3 linked regions of the Homo sapiens genome follow. The protein of the gene in region 2 interacts with the protein of the main gene of each other region in a pairwise test. Each region holds a gene or a part of one and is shown on either strand. Other genes may lie near its edges. The genes, in order: CNMD, HSH2D and RBP7.

What was found.
Region 1: the proteins of HSH2D (region 2) and CNMD interact in a two-hybrid assay, tested with the Homo sapiens proteins (one large-scale study listed by BioGRID and IntAct).
Region 3: the proteins of HSH2D (region 2) and RBP7 interact in a two-hybrid assay, tested with the Homo sapiens proteins (one large-scale study listed by BioGRID and IntAct).

The regions. Positions count from the first base shown.
Region 1 is NC_000013.11:52,722,807-52,726,455, reverse strand, and holds part of CNMD (leukocyte cell-derived chemotaxin 1 isoform 1 precursor), read left to right. Parts: intron 1-2,345; coding exon 2,346-2,459; intron 2,460-3,649. UniProt on the Homo sapiens protein: Bifunctional growth regulator that stimulates the growth of cultured chondrocytes in the presence of basic fibroblast growth factor (FGF) but inhibits the growth of cultured vascular endothelial cells.
Region 2 is NC_000019.10:16,142,102-16,145,850, reverse strand, and holds the start of HSH2D (hematopoietic SH2 domain-containing protein), read right to left. Parts: upstream 2,167-3,749; 5' UTR 2,077-2,166; intron 1-2,076. UniProt on the Homo sapiens protein: May be a modulator of the apoptotic response through its ability to affect mitochondrial stability. Adapter protein involved in tyrosine kinase and CD28 signaling. Seems to affect CD28-mediated activation of the RE/AP element of the interleukin-2 promoter.
Region 3 is NC_000001.11:10,010,697-10,014,345, reverse strand, and holds part of RBP7 (retinoid-binding protein 7), read right to left. Parts: intron 1-3,649. UniProt on the Homo sapiens protein: Intracellular transport of retinol.

The sequences.
Region 1 (3,649 bases), on a different chromosome or scaffold from region 2:
TTGTTAATGAAGACTGTTCTGAAGTTTTGCTGGGGACCCAGGGGATTTTTGATACAAGGGAAGGTTTGTGAACCACTGATAAAAAGAAACTTGGGTCCAAAGGTTATTGCCATCACTTTAAAAGCTTTGTTACCTTGAACACCTTTCTCTTTCATATGGTAGTCTTCAACCCTGGCATCAACCCTTTAAATTATAAACACCTGGGGAGCTTTTAAGGCTCCCAATACCTGGGCCCCAAAGCAAACCAATCAAATGGGAATCTCTGGGAAGGGACCCAGGCGTCTGTGTTCTTAAACCCTCTACAGTGAATTCAGGTGCAGTTAAGAGCCAAGCCTCAGCAGTGAGCCTCGGAGCTCCTCTTCTGTAAAGTGGGGATAATGCCCCTGTCTCTCTGAGTGAGCAGTAGTGCTGGGAGAAATAGGTGAAATGAGTTACATATGTATACATGATTAATTAAGCCACAAGACAAATAATAAAGAGCTTGAGGAAGAATGAGCCTTTTCTTCTGTGTTTTGCAGTCCTTTACTCACCAGCTTCTGTAGGGCTCCTGGCTCTGTGACTACATAAGGTAGAGCTATCCATTAATCCCCTCCAGCATGACTTACATTTAATTTTCTTCTTCATTGTAAAGGGCTGAATCTTGAGCCAGGATCCCTAGATTTTAAGTGTTTTCTACCCCCATTCTTTATCACTGGCCCTGGTACCATTTCTATATCATTCCAACACTTGCCTCAACTCAACAGAGGACTGATAAGGTTCAGATTTGTGCTAGTATCTCCATTATTATACCATAAAAATTGTAGGCCTTTATTTTAGATTCACTAGTCCTGAAACTAACAGCAGCAGGAGGAGAGTAAACATTCTTGGGACAGAGCATCCTGTTACCCCTCATGTCCTCTGTGGGTAGAATCGGGGCTGTGCTTTCAGCCAAGACTGGAGCTTTGTGGCTGATGTTTCCCTTGAGGCAGTCCCTAGGCAGACCAAGAGAAGATATTGTTTATATCTCTCAGGAGACAAAAAAAAAACATCTAAGTCCTTGGGTAAGGTATAGAAGGAAAGTTCAGAACCAGGTGCTGTAGAAAGTTTTACTGTTTACTCTGGGCTCAGTAACCTAGGAAAATTCTGAATTCACAGAATTAATTAATTTGACCAACATCTTTTGAATAGCTTTGTGGGGTCACCAAAAAAGAAAACAGAAAAGATTCAAATACTGATCTCAAGAAGCTTATAACTAAGTAGGCTGTGTATAGCTGAGTAAGCATCCCAGTTGAGGAATGAAGACAGGAGGACTTATGGGAAAGCAGAGGAAAGACAGCTGCTTAGGCTGAGATGTTCAGAGAAGGCTGCATGGAGAAGGTGGCATTTCATCTGAGCTTGTGAATATAGATGGAATAACTAACATATTCTGTCCCAGCTCAAATATCATCCCCTCATTGAGTCACCTCCCCTGACTATGCTGTCTGTCTAAATTACCACCTCATCATTCCTGTCTTATTTTTCTTCTTAACAGTTATTACCTGACTTTATCTCTATTCTTGTTTGTTTGTTTGTTTTTATTTTTTTGAGACAGCCTCGTTCTGTCACCCAAGCTGGAGTGCAGTGGCGATCTTGGCTGTCTGCAACCTCCACCTCCCGGGTTCAAGCGATTCTCCGGCCTCAGCCTCCCAAGTAGCTGGGATTACAGGAGCCCGCTACCACACCCGGCTAATTTTTGTATTTTTAGTAGAGACAAGGTTTCACCATGGTGGCCAGGCTGGTCTCAAACTCCCGACCTCAGGTGATCTGCCCGCGTCGGCCTCCCAAAGTTCTGGTGGCATAAGCCACCATGTCCGGCTGTTTTTGTTTGTTTTTTGTTTTTGTTTTGAGACGGAGTCTTGCTCTGTTGCCCAGGCTGTGGAGTGCAGTGGCGCAATCTTGGCTCACTGCAAGCTCCGCCTCCCCGGTTCACCCTATTCTCCTGCCTCAGCCTCCCAAGTAGCTGGGACTACAGGCGCCCGCCACCACGCCTGGCTAATTTTTTTTTTTTTTTTTTTTTTTTGTATTTTTAGTAGAGATCGGGTTTCACCGTGTTAGCCAGGATGGTCTTGATCTCCTGACCTCGTGATCTGCCTGCCTTGGCCTCCCAAAGTGCTGGGATTACAGGCGTGAGCCACCGCGCCAGGCCGCCCGGCTGTTTTTTATTATTGGTAAACAATGCTAAAAGGTAAGTTCCATGAGGGCAGTTCCATCTCTTTTGTTCATCCCTATCCCTAGCACCCGGAACAGCATCTGGAACACAGTAGACACTCAATAAATCGAATAAATGAACAAATGGATAGATAGATGGATACACTTTTGTTTCATAGGGCATCACAGGAATTCGTTTTGCTGGAGGAGAGAAGTGCTACATTAAAGCGCAAGTGAAGGCTCGTATTCCTGAGGTGGGCGCCGTGACCAAACAGAGCATCTCCTCCAAACTGGTGGGTACCAACATGCCTGAGACAGTGAGACTGCTTGGCAAACATTGTTTGAAGGCACAACCCTTTTGGTTTTTATTTTTTGTTTTTATTTTTATTTTTATTGAGACAGAGTCTCACTCTGGAGTGCAGTGGCGCTTTTGGCTCACTGCATCCGATTCTCCTGTCTCAGCTTCCTGAGCAGCTGGGACTACAGGGACACCACCACATCCAACTAACTTGTTGTATTTTTAATAGATACAGGGTTTCACCATGTTGGCCAGGCTCTTCTTGAACTCCTGGCCTCAAGTGACCTGCCTGCCTCGGCCTCCTAAAGTGCCAGGATTATAGGAGTGAGCCACCGCGCCCAGCCTAAAGGCACAACACTTTTGGTTTCTAGTACCTGGATAGGTTCATGACTAGATGGTAAATTCGATTTCTTCTCTGCCAAAGGAATTCAAACTGTTTTTGTCCTACTGGGGTCAAGGGATTCTTCTCACATGATATAGTATATTTAAACGTTTTGGGAAGCCACATTTTAAAGTGCATAAAGGGGCTGGGTGCTCATATGGCCTTATTTGCCTGAGGTTAGGGAACTATCTGATCTGTGGTTAAGACTCCACAATAGAGGCAGGCATGGTGGCTCATGCTGGTAATCCCAGCACTTTGGGAGGCCGAGGTGGGCAGTTCATTTAAGCCCAGGAATTCCAGACAAGCCTGGACAACACGGCAAAACCCTGTCTCTACTAAAAATACAAAAAATTAGCTGGCCATGGTAGTGCGTACCTATAGTCCCAGCTACTCAGGAGGCAGAGGTGGGAGGATCACTTGAGCCCAGGAGATTGAGGCTGCAGGGAGCTGAGATTGCACCAGTGCACTCCAGGCTGGGCAACAGAATGAGACTCTATCTCAAAAAATAAAAAAACCCGAAAGAGACTCCACAATAAAGACAAAGGACTCCACAAGACAGGGTCTTCATTAAAGGGACCCACAATAGCGGATCACACAGCCTCTGCTGGAAAGCAGCCACAGGGCACTCATCCCCCACCCCAACACCAGCCAGCATCACTGAGGGTGGTTCTAATTGTTTTGCCCTACATTAAGCTGAGATAGCTCCTCCTACAACTTCTTCCCATTGGTTCAGGTTCAGCCCATTGAAGCTACACAACATATATCTAATTCCTTTTCTATGTGTCAAACCTGTGAGTTTTTAA
Region 2 (3,749 bases):
ACCCACCTTGGCCTCCCAAAGTGCTGGGATTACAGGCGTGAGCCACTGCGCCCGGCCACTCACCATAAATTCTGTCCTTAAACTGGAGCTCACTCCCTCCACCCATTGGCCCCATCTAATGTTTCAATATCTCAAAAGATCTTTTTACTGGGCTGTCTCTATGAGGAGGCGGGGTCTGTTGACCAATGGCAGTCAATATTGACTTTCTCCAACCAGATGTCAAGCATACCCTCTGGGGTATGGCCTGAGGGAATTCTGGGGCAACCAAAATTAAATAACTGTATTAAGAAATGTTTAATAAAGCAGGGTGACAAAATGATTAAGAGCCTGGAATTGGAGGCTGGGTGCAGTAGCTCACACCTGTAATCCCAGCACTGTCAGAGCCTGAGGCAGGCGGATTGCCTGAGGCTGGGAGTTTGAGACCAGCCTGGCCAACATGGTGAAACCCCATCTCTAATAAAAAGACAATCATTATCTGGGCAAGGTGGCTCACCCCTGTAATCCCAGCTACTCAGGAGGCTGAGGCAGGAGAATTGCGTGAATCTGGGAGGCGGAGGTTGCAGTGAGCTGAGATCGAGCCACTGCACTCCAGCCTGGGCAACAGAGCAAGACTCCATCTCAAAATAAATAAATATGAAATAAAAATACAAAACTTACAGTGGCATGTGCCTGTAGTCTCAGCTACTCAGGAGGCTGAGGCAGGAGAATCATCTGAACTCGGGAGGCAGAGTTTGCAGTGAGCCAAGATCGCACCACTGCACTCCAGCCTGAGCAACAGAGCGAAACTCTGTCTCACAAAAAAAAAAAAAAAAACCCCAAAAAAAAAACCCATCACCACCAACAACAAAAAAAGAGCCTGGGACAGGTGCGGTGGCTCATGCCTGTAATCTCAGCACTTTGGGAGGCTGAGGCAGGCAGATCACGAGGTCAGGAGATTGAGACCATCCTGGCTAACATGGTGAAACCCCGTCTCTACTAAAAATACGAAAAATTAGCTGGGTGTGGTGGCGGGCGCCTGTAGTCTCAGCTACTTGGGAGGCTGAGGCAGGAGAATGGCGTGAACTCGGGAGGCAGAGCTTGCAGTGAGCTGAGATCGAGCCACTGCACTCCAGCCTGGGCGACAGAGCAAGACTCCGTCTCAAAAAAAAAAAAAAAAAAAAAAAAGAGCCTAGAATTCGACCCAGATGGCCTGGGTTCAAACCCTAGCTCGCCCACTTAGCCGCTGTGTGACCTCAGATAAGTCACTTAATGGCTCTCTGTCCCTGTATTTCTGTCTTTAATTTGGGAATAATGATATTTACCTAGGAAAGTTTAGCTAGCACTGTGTATATATAGAGATATATATACAATATTCATGAATCCAGTTGTGACCTATCATGGGGTAATGTTTACAGGCTTATTCTTTTTTTTTACTTGGAAGAGCTCCTATTTATCCTTCAAAACCCAGTAAAAATGTCCCCTCCTCCAGGCAGCTTTCCTGCATCTCCCCCCAGACAACACCCTGGCACCCCTCTCTGTCCCCAACGTTCCCCCCTGTTCCTCTCTCTGGTCCAGCCATGACTCCATGGAGCTAGAGTGTCTTTATCTTGCTCTGTCTCCACCAGCCTGAGGGCCTCCTAGGGATCAGGGCTTAGGGCTAGGTTCCTGTGTTGTTGTTTTTTTCTGTGTCCTGGTGCTGGCCTGGCACAGAGGAGGGTGCAAGGGTCTTTGCTGGTGAACAGCTATCTAGTGATGAAAGACCGCATGCTCAAATTCAAGCTCCTGACCCTGGCCTGGGAGCCTCCTCTACTTCCCCGCTACCCACATTCTAGACCTAAAGACATCCTTGCTCTCTCTCTCTTGCCTCTCCATACCTTTGCTCATGCTGTTGTCTTGCCAAGACCCCCTTTTCCCTAACTCCAGCTCCATTTTCCATTTGTGGTCACCACAAATACCCCCTCCTCCACGAAGCTCTCCCCCATGCCCCTAGAAAATCCCTCCTGCCACCCCAGGCCCCACTAGCCCTGTCCCTCCTTCTGGCCTAGCCCAGCCCCCACGTTCTGTCTCCTCGAGGGCTGAGGCTCTTGGGTCACATACCTGGGAGACCCTTGGATGGCCGAGGCCCTCGCTGTAGCTGTGCCAGTGCCTGCAGGAGCCTGGGTTTCGATTCAAGGTCTGCACGTCAATGGGGCGGGGCTGGCTGCCCCGAGGCAGTTCCTGTTTCCTCAAGCAGGTGAGCCCTGGGGGCGGAACAAGGACAGCTCAAGTCACCCTGTCTGCAGTCCAACAAAGCATCTGGTGCCACAGGTGCAGAGACAGCTTGCTCCTGTCTTGCCCCCAGCAAGTTGTTATTGAGCACCTACTGTGTGCCTGCTGTTTGGAGGACACAGGGGTGACACGGAGACAGGTGCAGGCCCCCTGACTCCTGGCATCTATAATCTATCAAGCAGTGAAGAGGAGTGAGACATCATTACAAAGGGAGAACGGGGAACGGGTGCGGTGGCTCACACCTGCAATCCCAGCACTTTGACAGGCTGAGGCAGGCGGATCACTTGAGGTCAGGAGTTTGAGACCAGCCTGGCAAACATGGCAAAACCCCGTCTCTATTAAAATACGAAAATCAGCCGGGTGTGGCGGCGCACGCCTGTAATCCCAGCTACTCAGGAGGCTGAGGCACAAGAATTGCTTGAACCCGGGAGGCGGAGGTTGCAGTGAGCAGAGATCGCACCATTGCACTCCAGCCTGGGCAACGGAGTGAGACTCCTTCTCAAAACAAAAACAAAAGCAACAAAGGGGGAACAGAAACTGGGCGCGGTGGCTCACGCCTGTAATCCCAGCACTTTGGGAGGCCGAGGCGGGTGGATCATTTGAGGCCAGGAGTTTGAGACCAGGCTGGCCAACATGGTAAAACCCTGTCTCTACTAAAAATACAAAAATTAGGCGTGGTGGCGGGTGCCTGTAATCCCAGCTACTCAGGAGGCTGATGCAAGAGAATCGCTTGGACCAGGGACGCAGAGGCTGCAGTGAGCCGAGATCACGCCACTGCACTTTAGCCTGGATGACAGAGGGAAATTCTGTCCCCCGCAAAACAAACAAACAAAAAAACACCAGCTGGGTGCGGTGGCTCATGCCTGTAATCCCAGCACTTTGGGAGGCCAAGGTGGGCAGATCATTTGAGGTCAGGAGTTCGCGACCAGCCTGACCAACATGGAGAAATCCCGTCTCTACTAAAACTGCAAAATTAGCCCGGCGTGGTGACACATGCCTGTAATCCCAGCTATTTGGGAGGCTGAGGCAGGAGAATCGCTTGAACCCGGGAGGTGGAGGTTGCGGTTTGCTGAGATCTCACCACTGCACTCCAGCCTGGGCAGCGAGAGTGTAACTCCGTCTCAAACAAAACAAAACCAACGAAAACCAAACAAAACAAAACAAAAAAACAAAAAACCCCAAACAAACAAAAAAATCCAAAGGGGAAACAGGAAGTGGGAACAGCAGTTGCACAAACCCACAGAGGTGACCTAACTGACGTGAAGGAAGGGGCATTTGAGGGTGAGAAGGAATCATCTTGATTTGGGGAGTGCGTAGTGCAGAAAGAGTATATTTTTTTGTAGAGATGGGGTCTTGCTATATTGCCCAGGCTGGGGGAGGGAAGAGCAGGCACAAAGGCCTTGAAACTGAATTGAGCCTGGACAGGCTGGGGTCTCATGGCACGCATAGGTCCACACCAGGACTTCCTCCATTATAAAATATTTTAAAATATTTTTATTAAT
Region 3 (3,649 bases), on a different chromosome or scaffold from region 2:
GACGCATAGGGCAAAGTAGGAAGGGGGAGCACACAGCCCTCCCAGCACCTCAATGTATTCACCACACACATGAATGTTCACCGTTCAACATGGAAGCTCTCTAAACCCCGTGGTTTAGTTTTTAGTGGATGTTTCAGCACATAGGCATGACTGATTAAGTCAATGGCTATTTGTGATTAGTTCAATCTCCAGCCCCTCTTCCCTCAGGGATGAGGCTGAAAGTTCCAACCCTCTAATCATGCCTTCGATTTTCTGGTGACCATCCCCCATCCTGAAGCTATCTAAGGACCCTCAGTAGACAGTCATGTCGTTAACACACAAAAGATCTTTTTTTTTATTTGGAGACAAGGCCTTACTCCTTTTTTATTTGGAGACAGGGTCTTACTCCTTCGCCCAGGCTGGAATGCAGTGGTGCAGTCATGGCTCACCTTAGCCTCAACTTCCTGGGCCTAAGTAATCCTCCCACCTCAGCCACCCAAGTAGCTGGGACTACAGGCACCCATCACCATGCCCAGCTAATTTTTTTTAATTTTTTGCGACGGAGTCTTGCTCTTGTTGCCCGGGCTGGAGTGCAATGGCGCGATCTCGGCTCACTGCAACCTCCACCTCCTGGGTTCAAGTGATTATCCTGCCTCAGCCTCCTGAGTAGCTGGGACTACAGGTGCCCGCCACCACACCCGGCTAATTTTTGTATTTTTTAGTAGAGACAGCATTTCACCATGTTAGCCAGGCTAGTTTCCAACTCCTAACGTCAGATGATCCACCTGCCCCGACCTTCCAAAATTCTGGGATTACAGGTATGAGCCACTGCCCCCAGCCAATTTTTTGTAGAGACAGAGTCACACTATGCTGCCCAGGCTGGTATTAAACTCCTGGACTCCAGTGATCCTCTTGCCGTGTCCTCCCAAAGTGCTGGGATTACGGAAGTGAACCACCACACCCAGCAACCAAATATTTTTTAATATATCATGGTGGCTGGGCGCGGTGGCTCATGCCTGTAATCCCAGCACTTTGGGAGGCTGAGGGGGGTGGATCACCTGAGGTCAGGAATTTGAGACCAGCCTGACCAGCATGGTGAAACCCTGTCTGTACTAAAAATATAAAAATTAGCTGGGCATGGTAGCGGGCGCCTGTAATCCCAGCTACTTGGGAGGCTGAGGCAGGAGAATCACTTGAACCCAGGAGGAGGAGGTTACAGTGAGCTGAGATCAAGCTACTGCACTCCAGGATGGGCGACAGAGTGAGACTCTGTCTGAAAAAAAAAAAAAAAATCATGGTAAGTAAGAAGCATTCCATGAGTATCCTTAGAACAAAAGTACTTCTGTGCCCTGCATGGGCAGATTTCCAGGGTATGCTAGAGAAGGATGTACACATTTGGTATTTCTCTTTTTTTTTTTTTTTTTTTTGAGACAGTTTCACTCTTGTCATCCAGGCTGGAGTGCCGTGGCGCGATCTTGGCTCTTGGCTCACTGCAACCTCCTCCTCCCAGGTTCAAGTGATTCTCCTGCCTCAGCCTCCCGAGTAGCTGGGATTACAAGTGCCTGCCACCACACCAGGCTAATTTTTGTATTTTTAATAGAGACGGGGTTTCGCCATGCTGGCCAGGCTGGTCTCGAACTCCTGACCTCAGGTGATCCACCTGCCTCGGCCTCTCAAAAGTGCTGGGATTACAGGTGTGAGCCACCATGCCCAGCCTTCCTTTTCTTTTTTTTTTTTTTTAAAGACAGGCTAGTCCTACGTTCCCCAGGCTTGACTCAAACTCCTGGGCTCAAGCAATCTTCCCGCTTTGGCCTATCCAGTAACTGGAACTACAGGCAAGTACCACCACACCCAGCTGTTGTGCATAATTTGAACATTACCTCTTACAAACCAACTAATCTAAATCCTCAAACATATGTATATATTCTTTGAAATTCCATATTACGTATTTGCGAAGGCAAGTTTCTTACTTTGTTTTTTTTTTTGGAGACAGAGTCTTGCTGTATCCCCCAGGCTGGAGTGCAGTGGCATGATCTTGGCTCACTGCAACCTCTGCCTCCCGGGTTCAAGCGATTCTCATGCCTCAGCCTCCTGAGTAGCTGGGATTACAGGTGCCTGCCACAGCCCGGCTAATTTTTTTTTTTTTTTTTTTTTTGAGATGGAGTTTCACTCTTGTTGCCCAGGCTGGAGTGCAATGGTGCAATCTCGGCTCACCGTAACCTCCTCCTCCCAGGTTCAAGTGATTCTCCTGCCTCAGCCTCCTGAGTAGCTGGCATTAGAGGCATGCGCCACCACTCTCAGCTGATTTTTTTTTTAAATATTTTTTAGTAGAGACGGGAGTTTCTCCATGTTGGTCAGGCTGGTCTCAAACTCCCGACCTCAAGTGATCCACCCACCTTGGCCTCCCAAAGTGCTGGGATTACAGGCATGAGCCACTGCGCCCGGCTCCGCCCAGCTAATTTTTGTATTTATAGTAGAGATGGGGTTTCATCATGTTGGCCAGGCTGGTCTCGAACTCCTGACCTCAGGTGATCCGCCTGCCTCAGCTTCCCAAAGTGCTGGGATTACAGGCGTGAACCCGTAATCCCATGCCTGACCTCTTACTTTTTTATCGTCAGAAGAGTGTGAGATTTGTCCATCTAGAATCAAAATATCTTCAAGGCCTTGGTATTCAAAGACTACCCAGACCCAACTTTAAGGACAGTGCTCTAGTTTTGTTCTCATGGGTCTCACCTAGATTTCACACATACAGTGAGGCAAAAAAGCACAGAGCTGAGAGCACACATTCTTGTCAGACCTGTATTTGAATCTTCACCCTACAGTGTGAAAATACGTAATTCACAATCAAAGCTGATGAAACTTTAAATTATTTTGAGTCTTAAAGGAATGTGATTGTGGGACCTGAGTCATGTGAAAGGCCGCTGTAACCTAGACAGCTATAACCTTAATTTCTCTGGTTATAGATTAGCCTTTTTCTTTACCTACACTGTTTTGTAAAAAACTAAAGGGCACCAGAGAAGACTTCCCTCTACTGTTGATCTTAATTACAGACTCACTTCCCTGTTTCTTCTCTCTTTTTTTTTCCCAAAGCAGGTGAACCTCTTCCTTCTCTAATACAAAGACAGATGACTATCACGTTGTCTAAGATGGAATGTTAAATATACTCTTAAGATGACAGCAAGAATGAGGGGGAAGAAAAATAAAATAAAGAATGTTAAATATATTCTTTAAACTGGAAAGAAAAAGGAAAAAACTGAGTGGTAACTAATCAAATTCCTGTAACTCATAAAACAGCTTTGTATAGAAAATGTTGTAATCCTGCGAAATTTCTTTGTTTTCTGTCTGTCGGGTGGCTCACGCTTGTAATCCCAGCACTTTGGGAGGCCAAGGCGGGCAGATCACCTGAGGTCAGGAATTCGAGACCAGCCTGGCCAACATGGCAAAACCATGTCTCTACTAAAAATGCAAAAATTAGCTGGGCATGGCCGGGCATGCTGGCTTACACCTATAATCCCAGCACTTTGGGAGGCCGAGGTGGGCGGATCACCTGAGGTCGGGAGTTCAAGCCCAGCCTGACCAACATGGAGAAACCCCGTCTCTACTGAAAATACAAAATTAGCCAGGCGTGGTGGTGCATGCCTGTAATTCCAGCTACTTGGGAAGGCTGAGG